2 separate regions of the Homo sapiens genome follow, and region 2 is linked to region 1. The links come from fine-mapping of genetic effects on gene expression. A gene starts in region 1. The other region holds a variant in brackets. All regions are shown on one strand. Distances are from middle to middle. Region 1 holds the start of CCP110 (centriolar coiled-coil protein 110). Region 2 overlaps TMC5 (transmembrane channel like 5).

Region 1 (5,381 bases):
CATATTCATTCATTTAGCAAACAGTAAATGTTGATTGCTTATTTGCACAGCATTATGTGTGGCACTGTTTCCTTTAAATAAGCAAGGGAAAATAAAAAGACATTATCAGAATCATAACCAGCAAGGGTATGAACTATGGAAACAGAAAATAGAATACAATCATGTTCCTTTATGTCTTCATTTTAAAATAATTAGCTTCTTAACAAAAAAAGAGAGGGCAGGGAAATTCAATTCATGATGTGGGATATGCAAAGATGAAATAGGATATGTCCTCGGTAGGCCTCAAAGTACTTAAAAATTCAGTACACCAAAGTATCAGGGACAAATTATAGTGCAATGAGAAATGGGAAAAAAAAAATAGTCAAAATTATAATCAGGTTATAAAAAAATAAGATATAATGCTATTTTTTCTAAATAGTTTAATCAATAACAAAACTTCTTCCTACTATTCAATCAATTGTAATTATTTGTGTTCAATCTATGCAAAGTAGGAATCTAATGACAAACAAATGGTTCTCTACAGTGTGAGTGAGACTATTTTACAAGCTTTTATTTATTTTAAAAAAGCAAAAGTAAAAACAATAAAACACCTTAAGGCATAGCCTTTTTTTAGGTCTAGGTTTCAACTCACATTATTTCTTAACCCCATTTCTGCTCAAATATTTTATTTTTTTAATCATGCCATGCATTCAGCAATACACAGAATGTAAATAGATTATACAAATAAAGTAATATATCTTCTATGGATACTCAAGCAAAGCATGAAATTCAATTTTAGAAGTGAGGGAAATTATTAAGGAAATATAATACTTTTATGGCCATAGTTTTATTTTTCTTTCAACATCATAGAGCTATGCCTCATTGTTTCAGAAAGTTATTCACATCCCTTAAATAGTACATATATGTCCTATATCTTGCAGATGTATAGTACTATATTATTATTACAGCACAACACAGCATATGACAACGCATTACTCATTCAAATATGAGTGCTAATATGGAGATTATACAAATTACTAGATGATCCTTAGAGCATGACTGGATCCTTCTTATTCTTCAGTCTCGGCTTGGATATCCCCTCCTCAGAGAAGGCATCCCTGATGACCCCATCTAAATGAACTCTGCCTCTATCACTATCACATTACCCTGCTGTTTCCCAATTTTCATAGCACTTACCACTATCTGAAATTATCGTGTTTATTTCCTTGATTTTTGTCTGTCTTCCTCCACCAAAATGTAAGCGCCATAAGTACAGGTACCTTTTCAGTCTTGTTCACTGAATCCCCATTACACAGAACAGTATCAGCACACAGCAGGCACTTGATAAAAGTATTGAATAAATGAATAAGAATAATAATAAGCTCAAACAATAATGTAAACCAGAAGAAAAAAAGAAGGCGGACTATACACCGAAGCTAGCAAGGAAGAGTGGAATTTAGAGAATGGAAATTTCACCATGGCTCTAGTCCCAGAGAAACTGGTACCTCTTAAACTGCAAAGGTAACCATTTAAGAAGTGAGCAGTCTGTATCCCATGATTAAGCAAGAGGACACTATGCCTTTCACACTACAATTACCACTGTCAGCAAGGTTTTATTTTAAGGGAGCCCTGACTACAAGGCTACCCCAGCCACAAATCTACTGCTCTATATCTTGCCATCAGGCATCACTGGTCCACTTCCAGTAATAATTTGTCAGCTACAGCAGGTTCAGACATGCCGTCTTCTCCATTTATACCACAGAGAACCACTGACCCTTGTGCAAATGAGCCTCTTTGCAAACCCCGTAGACTCATGGTCCTATCTGCTCCTTACCCGTGCTCTGCCAGACATGTCACTGAAAAGAGTGGTAAAAGTAACACAGAACAGATCCTGCTTTTTTTTTGCAGAACCTAGTGTTTCTTTGCCCATCAGTTCCGCCAAAGACGCAAACTTCTTGTAAAAGCGGTAAAGGGGAAGATTTCTTATTCAGATGCGTACTAGCTGCAAGTTCTTGGCAAGCCAGTTACCATCCCCACACCTGTTTCGTCCTCTGTAAAAGAGGGATGATCACGGTATCCGTCTCAAAGGAATGTTGTAAGAATTCAATGAGCTAATGCATGTAGGGCAATTAACGTAGTGCAGAACACGCAGAAAGCAACAAATAATGGGGACTGCTTTTCTTATTAAGAGGATAATGATGATGACGATTTTTAGCAGTAGAGTATGAATTCCTGGAGGGCAGCGACAGTGCTTGGTTCCCCGTAGGTTTCAAATGAAACTGAAAAATATAGAAAAGGGGACAACGGCTTCCTCATTTCCCTGTCCCTAGACCTCTCCCCGTCAAATCAATCTCGAGATGGCTGCCATTTGCCTAAACTGGGGGTAGGGAGCTTGGATCGTAACCAGAATAGAATCAAAGGGTGGGAACCATCTAGCAGCTCCAGGGGCAATCGATTACTTTATTATCCTCAAGTTTATGCCCCAGAGTGGCAAAGGCGAAGTAAGCAGCGCTCCTAGGGCCTTGGTTGTGGAAACAGGGGCTCATAAATGGCCAATGCACACCCCGGGGAAGCCTCCCTCTCCAGCACCGTGGGAGGGAGAAGAAAAACGGCCCAAACAATTTGATCACCACGATGGGGTTCTCCGGCTCTGGCCCGAGTTTTATTCACCAGGGACGGCCCCCTGCCCTCTCCCCAGCGCCCCATGCCCACCTCCTCCAGCTCCTCCGATTTAAGACTCCAAACCGAGGGCCCTCCAGGCGGGGCCAGCATCGGAGCATCACCTCAGCGCCCGGTGCTGGCTGCCCCCGGGGTCCCGCCTCCCAACAGCCGGCGCCTTTCCAGGGGGCTCGAGGCCCGGGAGCCCAGCACAGAGCCCGCCCTCAGCTTCTCAGGGCGCCAATTTCGCCTCGCCAGACCACCTCTCAGCCCGGACCCGTCAAGGCTCAAGCCCCCTCCTCATGCACACACCTGATCCCCCACGGCCCCTTCAGCTCCTCTCCCCTCGCCACGGGCCTTGTCAGGAAGCGAATGGCTCAAATGGTACTGACAGAGCGCAGCTCGGTCCGCCGCCGCCTTCTCCTCCTCCTCCCCGCCATATTACGGATCTCAGGCTGCAACGCGGGCTCCTGGCAACCGCCGCCGCTGCCACCCCGACTCCACCTCTCAGGGCCGGCACTTCCGGTGGTTGATTCCCGGGCTGTTAAAACCGTTGGGCCACCAGAACACTACCATCCCCGAGGTGCATTGCGCGCCCGCGATGGAGGACGTAATGCTTACGGCCAGCACGCTGCACGCCGGGAAACGTAGTCTTCCTTGCAAGCTAGAGACTAGAATTTATTAATAAATTTACTTATTTAGTAGAATAGGAACACCCCTCAGGGTCTGAAGCCCCCTGAAGTGTTCCTTGAAGTTGCCATTTTTTTCTTATCTGTATAAAGATAACCCCTTTCTATGCAGCCGTTAGAAAACATGTAACATTCACCAAAATATTTTCTTGTAGGTAAAAACTTGCTGAACCCACCGGGCGTGATGGCTTACGCCTATAATTCCAACATTTTGGAAGCCGAGGCGGAAGGATCGCTTGAGCCCAGGAGTTCGAGATCAGCCTGGGCAACAAAGGGAGACGGCATCTCTACAAAAATTTTAAACGTTAGCCGGGTGGGGTGGCGCGAGCCTGTGATCCCAGCTACTCGGGAGGCTGAGGTCGGAAGATCGCTTGAGCCCAGGAGGTCGACGTTGCAGTGAGCCATGATTGCACCACTGCATTCCAACCTGGGCGATAGAGTGAGACTGTCTGAAAGAAAAAAAAAAAAAGGCTGAATCCTAGATGCCAACTGGAAGGCTTAAGACATCTATCCCCTTTTGCAAATCAGTGGGAAAATGCACTAAAGGAAAAAAAGGTAACAGAAAAATCCCTGAATATTTTTGCAAAGTTCTCTACATAAAAATGTTACCAGCCCTCCAAAATATGTCCAGGGGCCCCTTTTCACTCCCTAACTCGGCTTCATGGTCTATCTCTCTTACCCTCCTTCCAGTGCCTGTTTTTGCATATGTAAAATGGGGGTTTTAAAAGTGCCTATCACAAGGGTGGTTGTGAGGCACAGTTGAGGTAACTCCTGTACAGTGCCTGGTACAAAAGCCCTTAGCAGAAGTAAGATTAGGGGGAGGAGGAGTGAAAATGTCACAAATCACTGGGGAGGCCTTTATGTCAGTCCCCACCCTGCCATTAACTGCTTAATTCACCTATCCTCAGTTTCCGCATCTATGAAATAAGGGAATCCTTAAAACCCCTTCCAGTTTTATAATCCGATTGTGCCTTCTTTGCTAGGCTCTTCCAGTCCCCCAGAATCTGGAAAATAAAGTCGATTGAAATCAGTCTCCTGATAGTAACTGTTAGGCTGTATTGAGAATGAGATAAGCATATAAAGTGTTTGCTCGTCAAGTACCTGGGACATGGTAAGTGCTCTGTAAACGTTAGGTGTACTTGCTAACTTTTATTTCCTCCCACAAGAATGTGAATCCCATAAGAGCAAAAACCCTGTAGGTCCTGTTCAACTGTGTCCGGAGCACCTGGACCGGTATTTGGCACATCTTGAATTGAACTGAACTGAACTGAATTGAATTGAATTGAATTGATAGTCTAAGCATCCTGCCTCTCCAGGTTCCCTGGAATTCAGTTTCCTCAAGGGCAGATAAAGGAGTCACTAAAATCCCTTCCAGTCCTACAGCTTTAGGATGGTTCTTATCCCTCCTTTTCTCGCCTAGGAGTCTGAACGCCCAGGTTGAAGTTCAGACCTCGGAAAACCCTAACCCACCTTAGATTTGGAACGTGAGCCTGGGGCCTGGGGCCTGGGCCCTCCCCCGTTGCCATGGAGCGGCTCCGCCCACTGGCGCTGCGAATCCCGATCCCTGATTGGCTGGGCGGCCGACTCCCTCTCTGGATGTGTCTGCTGCCGCCATTGTGCGGCGCTGGTCCCCTCAGAGGGTTCCTGCTGCTGCCGGTGCCTTGGACCCTCCCCCTCGCTTCTCGTTCTACTGCCCCAGGAGCCCGGCGGGTCCGGGACTCCCGTCCGTGCCGGTGCGGGCGCCGGCATGTGGCTGTGGGAGGACCAGGGCGGCCTCCTGGGCCCTTTCTCCTTCCTGCTGCTAGTGCTGCTGCTGGTGACGCGGAGCCCGGTCAATGCCTGCCTCCTCACCGGCAGCCTCTTCGTTCTACTGCGCGTCTTCAGCTTTGAGCCGGTGCCCTCTTGCAGGGCCCTGCAGGTGCTCAAGCCCCGGGACCGCATTTCTGCCATCGCCCACCGTGGCGGCAGCCACGACGCGCCCGAGAACACGCTGGCGGCCATTCGGCAGGTGAGACCCCCACGTTCGCGCCCCTCGGTCCTCCCGAGAGCTCGGAC
Region 2 (5,381 bases), 75 kb after region 1:
TGTCTATGTAATGAAGCCTCCCAATAAAAGGCCCAAGAGGACTGGGTTCAGGTAGCTTTCTGATAGCTGAAGACGGGGAGGTTCCTGGAGGGTGGCTCACCCAGGGAGGGCATGGAAGCTCTGTGTCCCTTCCCCTATACCTCACCTAATGCATCTCTTCATCTATGTCCCTTGTAATATTCTTTGTAATAAGCCAGTAAACATAAGTTTCCCGAAGTTCTGTGAGCTGCTCCAGCAAATTAACCAAACCAAAGGAGGAGGTCGTGGGAACCCCAACTTGAAGCTGGTTGGTCAGAAGTTCTGGGGCTGGGTGCGGTGGCTCATGCCTGTAATCCCAGCACTTTGGGAAGCCGAGGTGGGCAGATCAGTTGAGGTCAGGAGTTTGAGACCAGCCTGGCCAAAATGCCGAAACCCCGTCTCTACTAAAAATACAAAAATGAGCTGGGTGTGGTGGCGCATGCCTGTAATGCCAGCTACTCAGGAGGCTGAGGCACAAGAATCGCTTGAACCTGGGAGGCGGATGTTGCAGTGAGCTGAGATGGTGCCACTGCACTCCAGCCTGAATAACGGAGTGAGATCCTTAAAAATAATAATAATAATAAAAAGAAAAAGTTCCGGCGGCCTGGACATGTGGCTGGGGTCTGAAGGAGGTATATAGTCTTGGGGACTGCGCCTTTGTCCTATGGGATCTGACACTATCTCCAGGTAGATAGTGTCAGAATTGAATTGGAGGATACCCAGCGATGTCTGCTGTAAAATTGATCGCTTTCTTGGTGTGTGGGGAGAAACCCCCACCCATTTGTTCACAGAAGCCTTCTGTGTTGATGGTTGTTGAGTAAGAGAACAGAAAAAACACTCTGAGTGTGTTTTTTTCTATACAGTCTCCAAACCTCATGCTGGCAAGACAGAGCAGTCATAACATTTAAACATATTTATTCTCCCTGATAATTAAAGCCATTCTGTGCCCCAGTGGGGACCAAATAGACAGTGTGATCATTTATATCCCAACGGTTTTCCCTTCCAAGTAGCAATATCTAACCCTCCCTGAAAAGGCATACATCTCTTGAAGGATGAGGCTAACGGTTATCTTATAGGCGATGGGGCTGAAAGGTGAGAGTTCTAAGTGGCTTCTCTCCACACGCATCATTGTATAGAGGACCTCATTACTTTATTCCTTGTTGCTCACAGATTTGCCTTGTGGCTCCAGCACTCCCTAGTCTAGTCTCTCTCCTCTGTTGCTTCATTTTTTGTTTTTGTTTGTTTGATTTTGAGACAGGGTCTCACTCTGTCACCTAGGCTAGACTGCAATGGCGTGATCACAGCTCACTGCAGCCTCAACCTCCCAGGCTCAAGCAATCCTACCGCCTCGGTCTCCCAAAGTGTTGGGATTACAGGCATAACCCCCGTGCCTGGCTTGTTGCTTCCTTTTTATTTTTCAGTCTCTGCCTCTGATTCAACCTTCATCACCACACACAGTGATCCTTAGAGAGCTTCCTAACTGATTGCAGCGCCTTCTATCTTTCACCAGTCTGACTGCTTCCACACTCCATTATCATAATAATTATATGAATATTCACAAAAACTTTGATCAATGCATCTTGTCCCCACCAACACAGGCATTAGCCACAGAATAGACAGGTGACCCAGTCTTGTCCCTTGTGGTAAAAATGATTGGCTCAAGTGTAGGCATGTGCTCCAGTTAGACTGGCCAGAGTCCTTCCCCCGCATTAGAGATGGACCCAGGGAGGAAGCAAGACTTCCTAATGAGGTGGCTAAGCAGAGGGCTCACGTGGGCCTGCTATTGGCCGTGTTCTCTGGCCTGTGGACAAGTCCTGACTCTGACGGAGATGAATGAGGTCTAACTTAAAGAGGTGCTGAGGATCCAGGACATACCTATACATACAGAACTGAAAAGCAAGTTTTACAAAGATGAGAAATGGATGGGAAACCAGAGTCCAGGTGACATTGAGTTCCCTGACCTCAGACTGAGGTCCTGATTTCTGTACTCATTCAACAAATTAATCTAACAAATATCCCTAAAATACCTACTACGTGCCAGGCACTGTACTAGGTGCTGGAAGGTACTAATACTTCTACTTTCATTTCTTTAAGTTTCCCCCATACGCTTCTACCACATGAGCCAATGAATTCCCCCTGGGCTAATGCCTGTTTGAGTTGGGTTTCTGTCACTTGCAACCAGAAGATTCCTAATGAAGACACCCTGATCCCCAGAAGACAACAAACTATACATCTAAAAGAAAACTCCATTATGATATGTTAAGCAGGTTCTGCATCAGTAACCACACTGGAGGTCAAAGGAAATGGCAATGGGTGGATTGTCTTGGACATGTTCCTTCTCCAGGGTTGACTTTTTGGTCACTGTCCTTTAAGTCTTACTGTATTAGTCTGTTTTCACACTGCTATAAAAATACTGCCTGAGACTGCATAATTTATAGACAAAAGAGGTTTAATTGTCTTACAGTTCCTCATGGCTGGGGGGCATTTCTCAGGAAACTTACAAACGTGGTGGAAGGCATAGGGGAAAGAAGGGCACATCTTACATGGGGGCAGGAGAGAGAGTGGGTGCAGGGGAAGCTGTCACTTTTAAACCATCAGATTTCAAGGGAACTCCCTCAATATCATGAGAACAGCATGGGGGAAACCACCCCCATGATCCAATCACCTCCCACCAGGTCTCTCCCCCGACACATGGGGATTACAATTTGAAATGAGAGTTGGGTGGGGACACAGAGCCAAACCATATCACTTACCTTGGGGTGACTTGTGCCAATCACATTCAGACAATGGTGGGTTTCCATAAGCATGGACAGGACCACTTTCACCTACATAAGCAGGGTTCACTGGAGGGAAGAGGAAGGAGA[T/C]ATTGCCGATTAGTCTCACCACACTAGACATTCCTGGCATGCAATAGTTATGATGTGCTAATAGTGGTTCGTAACGGCTAATAAGACTGAGACCTGGTCTTTGAGGTTCTAACAGACTACTGATTAAGAACTTGGGTGGAAACTAGGACAAAAATACAAAAACAGTGCTGTTAAATATAATCAGCCTAGATCAATGGTTTTTCATTTGACTAAGCCATAGTTAAAAATAATTGTTGGCAAGGTGAGGTAGCTCACGCCTGTAATCCCAGTGCTTTGGGAAGCCATGGTGGGAGGATTACTTGAGCCCAAAAGTTCAAGACCATCCTGGGCAACATAATGAGACCCTGTCTCTAAAAATATATGTATATGTGGCCGGGCACAGTGGCTCACGCCTGTAATCCCAGCACTTTGGGAGGCCGAGACAGGTGGATCACGAGGTCAGGAGATCGAGACCATCCTGGCTAACCCCGTCCCTACTAAAAAAATACAAAAAAATTAGCCGGGTGTAGTGGCGGGCGCCTGTAGTCCCAGCTACTCGGGAGGCTGGGGCAGAATGGCATGAACCCAGGAGGTGGAGCTTGCAGTGAGCCGAGATCGCGCCACTGCACACCAGCTTGGGCAACAGAGCGAGACTCTGACTCAAAAAAAAAAAAAAAAGAAAAAAATACATATAAACTACATGATATAAAAATAAATATATATTTTATACTATATATTTTATATATTTTTTGTATTTCTAATATATTTATTTTTATATGTTACATGTAATCTATATTTTATATGTTATATAATATAAAAATAAATATAATATATTAAAATATATATATTATCTATAAATATATATTTTAATATAAAATATAATATAAAAAATTACATTAAATATATATATTAATATATATTTTAAGACAGGTTCTCACTCTGTCACCTAGGCTGGAGTGCAGTGGTGCGATTTCAGCTCACTGCAGCTTTGACCTCCCAGGCTCAAGCAATCCTTCCATCTCAGCCTCCTGAGTAGCTGGGACTACAAGCATGCACCACCATGCCTGGCTAATATTTTGTATTTTTTGTAGAGAGGGGGTTTCACCATGTTATCCAGGCTGGTCTCGAACTTCTGGGCGGCTCAAACAATCTGCCAGCCTTGGCCTCTCAAAGGGTTGGGATTACAGGCTTGAGTCATGGAGCCCAGTAAAAAAGTGTGTGTGTGTGTGTGTGTGTGCGTGTGTGTGTAAATAATGGTTGCACTGAGATCCAGGACACACCTATACATATAGAACTGAAAAGCAAGTTTTACAAAATAATACTTTGTTTGACTATATAAACTGCACTCTAACATAGCCTTACTCTAGTCCACTCTTTTTTTTTTTTTTTTTTGAGACTTGCTCTGTCACACAGGCTGGAGTGCAGTGACGCAATCTCGGCTCACTGCAACCTCTGCCTCCCGGGTTCAAGTGATTCTCCAGCCTCAGCCTCCCAATTAGCTGGGAGAAATGGAGAAAATGGAGCACATTTTAATGGGGACAATATGCAAAATTACATTGCAAGACCTTCTGGAGCTTCTTGCCTGGGAATCAACTCCCAGCCCTGTTACTTCCTAGTTGTGCGCCCCCTGGGTGTGTGTCTTAGCATCTCTGAGCTTCAATATCTTAGTCTCTAAAATAGGGATAACAGGCTAGGTGTGGTGGTGTATGCCTGTAATTTCGGCACTTTGGGAGGCCAAAGTGGGACAGTCGCTTGAGCACAGGAGTTTGAGACCAGCTTGGGCAACATGGCATAACCCTGTCTCTACAAAAAATAAAAAAATTGGCTGGGCATGGTAGTAGTGTGCCTGTAGTCCCAGCCACTCAGGAGGTAAAGGCTGCAGTGAGCTGAGATTGCACCACTGCACTCCAGCCTGCACTAAAGAGCGGGCATTTTGTCTGAAAAATAAATAAATAAATAGGGATAATAATAGGACCTTCACATAGGATTGTTGTGGGAATTGAATCAGTGAACACATGTGAAATGATTAAATAATCCTCGAACATATTAAACTCTAATATATATTAACTGTTATAGTAGATTAATTGTTATTCAGCAAATATTACATTTCCCCTACCTTGACTACCTCCATTGATATTGGGCTTAGTCGTGTGACTTGCTTTGAACAATGGAATATGACAGAAGTGACAGTGTGCCAGTTCCAAGCCAAGGCTTTTAAAGATACCGTGTGTTTCTGCTTGCCATTTTGAGCACTTTCAGCTTACGGCATGGGAAGACATTGCCCTAGGTCACTCACTGGTCCAAGAAGAGGGACACTAGAACTAAATAGAACCCATGACGTAGAGCCAAGCACAACAAACTCAGCGTAGTTCAGCCAAATGCCAACCAACCTTGCAGACCCGTAAGAAGAAAATGCTTGTTTATTGTACGACTCTGGATTTTTGGAGTTGTTTGTTATGCAGCATTCCTGTGGCAATAGCTAGCTGATACAACTCTTATAGTTGTTGTTGTTGTTGTTGT

The links. PIP is the estimated chance that this variant, and not a neighbour inherited with it, causes the effect.
Region 2: its variant is fine-mapped to the expression of CCP110 in whole blood (INTERVAL, PIP 0.95).

Annotation. Positions count from the first base shown.
Region 1 is chr16:19,521,657-19,527,037 of GRCh38, reverse strand. It overlaps CCP110 (centriolar coiled-coil protein 110), which reads right to left and starts at 3,096. Exons shown (of 14, transcript NM_001323572.2): 1 at 2,950-3,096. It overlaps GDE1 (glycerophosphodiester phosphodiesterase 1), which reads left to right and starts at 4,940. Exons shown (of 6, transcript NM_016641.4): 1 at 4,940-5,334. The coding sequence starts at 5,074. RefSeq lists a silencer at 4,979-5,148 and enhancers at 5,259-5,381, 4,739-5,381.
Region 2 is chr16:19,447,022-19,452,402 of GRCh38, reverse strand. TMC5 (transmembrane channel like 5) reads right to left here. Exons shown (of 22, transcript NM_001261841.2): 5 at 2,772-2,861. Among named protein-coding and RNA genes, the nearest start is that of TMC5, 32 kb to the right of the region's middle. The variant T/C (reference allele first, on the strand shown) is at 2,883.